Homo sapiens: one gene and its partner. The protein of the gene in region 2 purifies or fractionates together with the protein of the main gene of each other region. This does not show direct contact. Each region holds a gene or a part of one and is shown on either strand. Other genes may lie near its edges.

Region 1 (3,500 bases), on a different chromosome or scaffold from region 2:
ACCCGCTGTGCAGCCCTTCCAGCAGGCAGATACTAAGCCCGGCACCCCTCCCAGGCTCCAGGCTCACTTGTGTGCTAACCTCTGTGCCCACCTGGCCACCTGCTCACCTGCCTGAAGCGTGTCCCACTGCCCCAAGCTGGGGCTGCTTCCTGGTTGTGAGGGAAGTGCCTGCTCTGCAGACCCCCACCTTCCAGCAGGCGGATACTAAGCCCAGCACCCCTCCCAGGCTCTGGCCCTCCCCACACACCTGTGGTTTCAAGCCCTGTTCTGCTGGAAGGGACACTCCTCCCACCTCCCCAGCCCTCTCTGCTGGAGCCGTGCCCCTCCCCCGACATTCCTCCAGGCTGGGCCACCCCCACATGCCTCCTTGCTCTCCACCGCCCAGACCTTCTCCTTATCTTGTTTTCCTTTTTATATTGTTGTTCTCCCTCCCTGGCCTTGCCTCTCCCTGCTGGGTTCCTTGCCCGAGTTTCTAATTCAGAGAAGACTGGGTAACTCCCCACAGTGTCTCTGCTAAAGCTTCCCAGGCCCAGTGACTTTTTACTAAATCCTCGAAGGCCATCAGGTTCCAGGGCCTGCTGAGGTCTCCATAATCACCCCTTGATTCCAGAAATGATCCGAGACTAGAGACTTATCCCAGCCCAGCCCTACTGCCCAGGTCCTCCGGTGCCTGCCTGGGAGCCTGTTTGTGCACTTTGATCCCCGGCCTGCCTGCCGGAAAATCATCCAGGCTGTGGTTCCTGATCCCATCACCTGGCTTTATCTGAGATACAAAGCACAATATTCACCGAGGGCTGGTGGCCTTCCCTGAGGGTTGGCCTGGATTAGCAACCTGCACCTGTACCCGCACCTGCACGACATGTGGCCAGGCCTGTGCTCCGAGGCCAGGTTTCCCTTCCCCCATCTCTTTCTTTGTCTCCCTCTGTGTTTCTCTCTCTGTCCCAGTCTCTCTCTTCTCCCCACTGCTGGTGGTGAGGAATTCTCCGCATGGGATGTTGGTGCATCCGTTTTCAAACTTGCTGGCTCATCCTGAACTGCATGTGCCCTCCAAGCACCTTTTCCCTGACCTTGTGGATTCTTTGGGAACAGCTGGGGAAGGGGTACCCTTTATGGAAATGAAAACCCCTCTGAGTCCCCACTTGGGAACAGCCACTTGGCTGGGACACAGGCCCAGATGTTGGGATGGCCTAAAGGGAGGTCCCTGTTGGAGGGGAGGGCTGTACAATGTGGGGGCGCCTGGTGGGGAAGGTGATGGCCAGGCTGAGACCTCCCCTGCCCTGCCTTGACAGAGGCTGCAGCACACTCCCACACACAGACACATGCACACACATTCACACATGGACACCAGCACAGATAGGTGCTGACTCATGGATACAGGTGTGCAGGGACACACACACCCCTACCTAGACACATGCACACATGTACATATGTTCCCATAGACACAGATATACATGCACACACACAGGCACACACATACTAACAGACATGTACATACGTATGCACACATTCACATAGATATACGTACACACACACACTGACAGACATGCACACACATAAACAGGCACACACACATACTAACAGACATGTACACATACATGCACACATTCACATAGACATACGTACACACAGTCACACACTGTCCAGACATGCACATACAAGGCACACACATACTAACAGACATGTATACATACATGCACACATTCACATAGACATACAGTCACACAGACATGTACACATGCATAATGACATGCACACACATACTAACAGACATGTACACATACATGCACACATTCACATAGATGTACCTACACAGTCACACAGACATGCATACATAGGCACACACAGACATGTACACATACGTACACAGTCACACACACAGACATGCACACACAAAGGCACATACTAGCAGACATGTACACATACATGCACACATTCACATAGACATATGTAAGCACACAGCCACACACTGACAGACATGCACACACATACATGCACACATTCACATAGACATACGTACACACAGTCACACACTGTCCAGACATGCACATACAAGGCACACATACTAACAGACATGTATACATACATGCACACATTCATATAGACATACAGTCACACAGACATGTACACACATGCATGACACGCACACACATACTAACAGACATGTACACATACATGCACACATTCACATAGACTTACATAGTCATGTACACACATGCATAATGACACACATACTAACAGACATGTACACATACATGCACACATTCACATAGACATACATACAGTCACAGACATGTACACACATGCATAATGACACGCACACACATACTAACAGACATGTACACATACATGCACACATTCACATAGATGTACATACACAGTCACACACACAGACATGCATACATAGGCACACACAGACATGTACACATACAGTCACAAACACACAGACATGCATACATAGGCACACACAGACATGTACACATACGTACACAGTCACACACAGACATGCACACACAAAGGCACATACTAGCAGACGTACACAGACATGCACACATTCACATAGATGTACATAGTCACACACAGACATGCATACATAGGCACACAGACATGCACACACAAAGGCACATACTAGCAGACATGTACACATGCACACATTCACATAGACATATGTAAACACACAGTCACACACACTGACAGACATGCACACACATGCACACATTCACATAGACATACGTACACAGTCATACACTGACAGACATGTACACACATGCATAATATGCACACATGTACACACAGTCACATAAATAGACACATATACACACACAGGCACACATGGATGCCCAGCCACATGCATGCAGACACACACAGACACATGTGCACCCTCTCACACACTTTTCTCTTTCTACAACTTTGGGGTCAGAAGACCACTGACAGCTGCAGCAGGATCACTAAAAAGTGACACAAGGTCACGGGGCTCTGTGGCCCCAGCTTCCTCAGACCCCCAGGGTCTCTCCACTCCCAGAGCCCCCTGCCTGAGGGGCCGGAGCCCTGTGGCCAAGGCCTTTCCTCCTGGGCCCATCCTGAGGCCTGCAGGTGGACCCCGGCCCGGCCTCCTCTGAGGGCCGTCTTCCGTGCTGGCTCCGCAGCCCTCTCCTGTGCCCGCACCTGTGCAGATGCTTGTTTTCACCCGGGCGTCTGCAGGCACTTGGTGCCAGGCTCCTCCGGGGCTTTCTCAGAGGCAGCCGAGTGCCAGGCCCTGCACACGACACCCTCACCCGAGCCGGAGAGCTTCACATCTGTGGAAAACTCTAATTAAAGACGTTTTGAGAAACGCTGAACGTCTCCCTTTGTTATTTAGGAACAAAACACTCTTTTAGGAAGCAAGTGCTTATGGCTTCTTTCTTGAGATTCTGAGTAAAGGGGCGTTAAGCTTGCTAGCTGGGGCATGCTGAGCACTTCCCAGGTTATGGCTTTACCCCAGAGCGATTGACAGGCATCCAGGT
Region 2 (4,184 bases):
CATAGTACAGCAGTGAACAGTAACATACTACTGATAACTGCAATAATATGGAGGAATTGCACAAATATCAGATAGGATTGAAAAAGACATGAAATTCACACTGCTTGATTCCCTTTATATAAATAAATTCAAGAACAGGCAATCATTATTTATAATATTAAAAGTCAAGACTGCGTTTTGGAGAGGAGTCAGGATAAGTGATGAGGGCATACACAGGGGTGGAACTGCTAGAGCTGGAAACTTTTATTTCATGATCTGACTTGTATCACATGCATTCATTCACTTTGTGATCAATCTGCATGACCAGATGATATCATGCCCGATAAAATTAGATAGCAAAATTTATTGTGGATTCAAAGCACTTATAGAAGCATGGTTTTCCTTGAAAAACAAAAACTGAAAATAAATGTACATTAGCAGTATATAACTTTAAAAACATTATTAAGTCAATCAATTGAATATTACATACACTTGAAAATATATGAGATAAATATATGTACACACATATGGATGTTTTCTACAAATGTATTATTCACTGAAGGAAGCTTTTCATAAAATGTTTGAAACATTTACATCTTACCATTTCTTCTTCATTATCTATAGAAAGCAGACTGGAGTTCTTCGAAGTACAGGCCAGCAAACTCTCTTCCCAAGTTCTTCTTTCCTTACCAATGTAATAACAACTGTTGGAATATGTAATCCACTCCTCAGGACAATGGCCACAATGACGTGCTAATAAAGATATGAATTACTATCTAGACCAATATGAATTTTTAAAAATGAAAATTAGTTCACATATTTCAACAGTATAAACATATATGTGCTTAACATATTTACGCATCCTTACAGGCTTATAAATGTATATTTTTAATAACTGAGTCAGTCATACACACATGCACAGACAAGGGTTAGCCTCTCCTCCCTAATTGTGTTCCCATATAAAGCAAATGAACAAACAAAAATACACTCTACACATGTGTTGAACATCGCTGATACACAACTGCTTTTTTAGAATAGTAAAATTATTTATTTGGTATCATCTCACAGCAGTAGGAAACCTCTGTTAATTGGGAGAAAGAGGGTAGAATGATTTTAAGTGAGTATTTCTACTCACTGGAGAAAAGGAAATGCTGCCTCATAATCTTTCTTTATAAATATTTATGGCTGAATTTATGGCTTATTTTCTGCAAAAATGCCACTATTCTTTTACATGCCTTAAAACAGACACAAAATATAAATTGTACTAATATCAGAACATTGAAAATAAAAATGTACCTTTCTGCGTTCTTGTATTCGGGGAAAAATTGTTCTGCTCCAGGACTGTAATAGAAAAATTAAAATGATTTTTATAAAAACTGATATCTAGATAAACCATAACGAGTTTAGTTTCTTACTTTGAAACTTTGTGTGTTATTTAAAATGGGGAGAATCTTTAATAAAATTAACTTTTTCTATAAAAATATATAAAGTAATAGACCTTTGAAATAAACATTTTTAAAGACTTTAGCACAAACTTCACCATCTCTTGTAGTATTTGATGTAACCACTTTCAAAAATTAATTTGTTTTTCTAAATACTTTTCTTCTATAGCATGCCTTTGAATTATGAAATCAGAAAATATCTTTGTGTGTGTATGTATATACATATATATAGATTACACACAAAAAATAAACACATGTTCTCTACAATGATTTTGTTATTTATGTTGTGAAAAATTCAGAATAACCATATTACTTTTGGTTCCAAATTGTACTAATATCAGAACTTTGAAAATAAAAATGTACTTTTCTGGGTTCTTGTATTTGGGGAAGAATTGTTCTGCTCCAGGACTGTAACAGAAAAATTAAAATGATTTTTATAAAAAGTAATATTTAGATAAACCATAATGAGTTTAGTTTCTTACTTTGAAACTTTGTGTGTTATTTAAAATGGGGACAATCTTTAATAAAATTAACTTTTTCTATAAAAATAAATGAAGTAATAGATCTTTGAAAGAAACAGTAAAATAAGAGTTCTATTCTTCAACAGTATGAAATATTTTGAGGCACTTCCAAGCATTAAAGTAAAACGTTCCCTTCTAATCTTTCAAGAATATGCTTACAAGGAATAAGAACTATTGTTTTTAACACAGTGGCCATCAGGACAATGCAAATGATTCCTAGGACCTCGGCAGTGAGCTTCTCTGGAGGTGGCAGTAAACCTGCAGGGAGAGAAATAGAGGCACTGAGAGAGGGGAGATAGAGAGTTGATTAGGATTACATACTAGAGAATTACATACTAGAGAACCCACATGCACAGGGAAACATAATGATAAACTCTGGCCTCTAAATCTACATCTACTCTAGTAATCTTTCTCTCAGAATATACCATTTCATTTTCAGTAAATATAATGTTCCATGAGTGGACCGCAGATTACAGTTGAACAATGCCCGAATAAAATTAGTCTTCTGATTTCATATTAGAATTTTAGATCCCAATTATGAACTCCGATTCTCACAAGTGCAAAATATTCCCTAATCTTTCCTCACCCTTCTGCATTCAACTGCACATCCTAGAACAATAATATTGAAGATATATTTAATGTTTTACCTTGGCAGTCATATATTTTATCAATCCCTTGATGATTCAGGGAAGGATTTTGAAGATTTAATTCTACTTGGAATATTTCCTGTTCGGTTCCTGAAATGGAGCTTTTATTGCCTTTAGGTTTCCTTTGCTGCCGCTTTGGGTCCTGGGCCAGACTCACTTCTGAGAAGGTTCCTCTTTGTTTATTCATCTCTGCAGCTGTGTGATGTGAGGGACTGTGCTCTATGATAACTGCACTTAAGAAGCTATAAATGGTGTATATTTTGACAGGATCCCTGGTATAGGCAATGTGCATGTGTTGGGGCTGAGTAATAATGTTTACTTTGCTGTTAACCAATGTAAAATTCTGCTACTAATTTCCTAAAGCTTTAAACAAAAATCACACGATATAATTGGCAATTTTTTAGATGTATTCTGTATTTGACATAATATTACTAGTGGGAACAATAAAAACATTAAACTTATGAGAACTAGGAAGTTCATGAAAAATTGGTATTAAATTAAGGTTAGATTCTTCAAAAATGTTTAACACCAATAGACTGCATATGTCAACAATCAAAATACTGTATTTAGAAATACACAAATTTTATCATAGTTTTAAGAGTCATTGATGGTTAAGGATTGTGTGCCATAAGATAAAATAGTTCTGTCAGCATATAGAGTATCTTCTTATACTAAAATACATTGTTAGTGACTTACATTCATTTATTAAAAGGACCTGAGGTATTGTCAAATGATTTTTTTTCTAAATTAGGAAATCAGAAAAATCATTAAAATTTTAAAAATATATCTTGTAAAACATTACATTACTGTATGCATAAATATTATTGAAAACGTATTTTTAAATTGCTGCTTTTACACAAGAAATTGGTAATTGATTTAATGACTAAAATAGGAAAACTTAAAATGATAAATAAACGTGTGGGCCGTCTATGGAAGAATAGTGTCCAATCAAACTTTCAGAAAGCTCCTATGATTGTATAAGTCAGTGAGGGTTGCTTTGGTTGTATAAGTAATTGTAATAGTTCAGATAATGTAATTTAATAATCTAGTCAATGAGCTCTGTAGTCAGTGAGACTACAATTAATTCTAGCTTTGCAAGTTGTAATATGTGACCTGTACTAAATTACTTAGTGTCTACTAACCTAGTTTACTAATCTACATTGGGAAAAATAATTTATAAAGTATAATGTATGTAAAAAACTAAACACACAACCTGGCACATGTTACCACTGAATACATAATAGATATTTCAACTATTTTTAACACAATTGCCATTTTATTATTTCTGATTTGCATTAGAGTGTGTTAAAATAACTCATTAATTAGGCGTCTCATGTCAGTGTGGTACATCTTTTTTGCAATGTTTGGTTCAATTGTTTTAAGTCTTCCAATTGTTTATAATTAAGGTCAGATTTGCATTTTATGGAAATGATTTCATCCTTACTTTTATTAAAAATTAAAACTGCTTTCATGAAATCTAGGTGTGTGATTGAGAATTAATGTTTGACATTCACAATTTGATGTATCCATATTAAAAATTTATTTTTAAAGTTTGGTCTAAATATAATATACAAAATGTAATGGTTACAAAATCC

What was found. Proteins that work in one complex are often made in the same cells at the same time.
Region 1: the proteins of KLRC2 (region 2) and GAS6 purify together in Homo sapiens (affinity purification with mass spectrometry; one large-scale study listed by BioGRID and IntAct). This does not show direct contact.

What each region holds. Positions count from the first base shown.
Region 1 is NC_000013.11:113,857,577-113,861,076, reverse strand, and holds part of GAS6 (growth arrest-specific protein 6 precursor), read left to right. Parts: intron 1-3,500. UniProt on the Homo sapiens protein: Ligand for tyrosine-protein kinase receptors AXL, TYRO3 and MER whose signaling is implicated in cell growth and survival, cell adhesion and cell migration.
Region 2 is NC_000012.12:10,433,211-10,437,394, forward strand, and holds the start of KLRC2 (NKG2-C type II integral membrane protein), read right to left. Parts: upstream 2,801-4,184; 5' UTR 2,777-2,800; coding exon 2,590-2,776; intron 2,201-2,589; coding exon 2,102-2,200; intron 1,321-2,101; coding exon 1,276-1,320; intron 733-1,275; coding exon 581-732; intron 1-580. UniProt on the Homo sapiens protein: Immune activating receptor involved in self-nonself discrimination.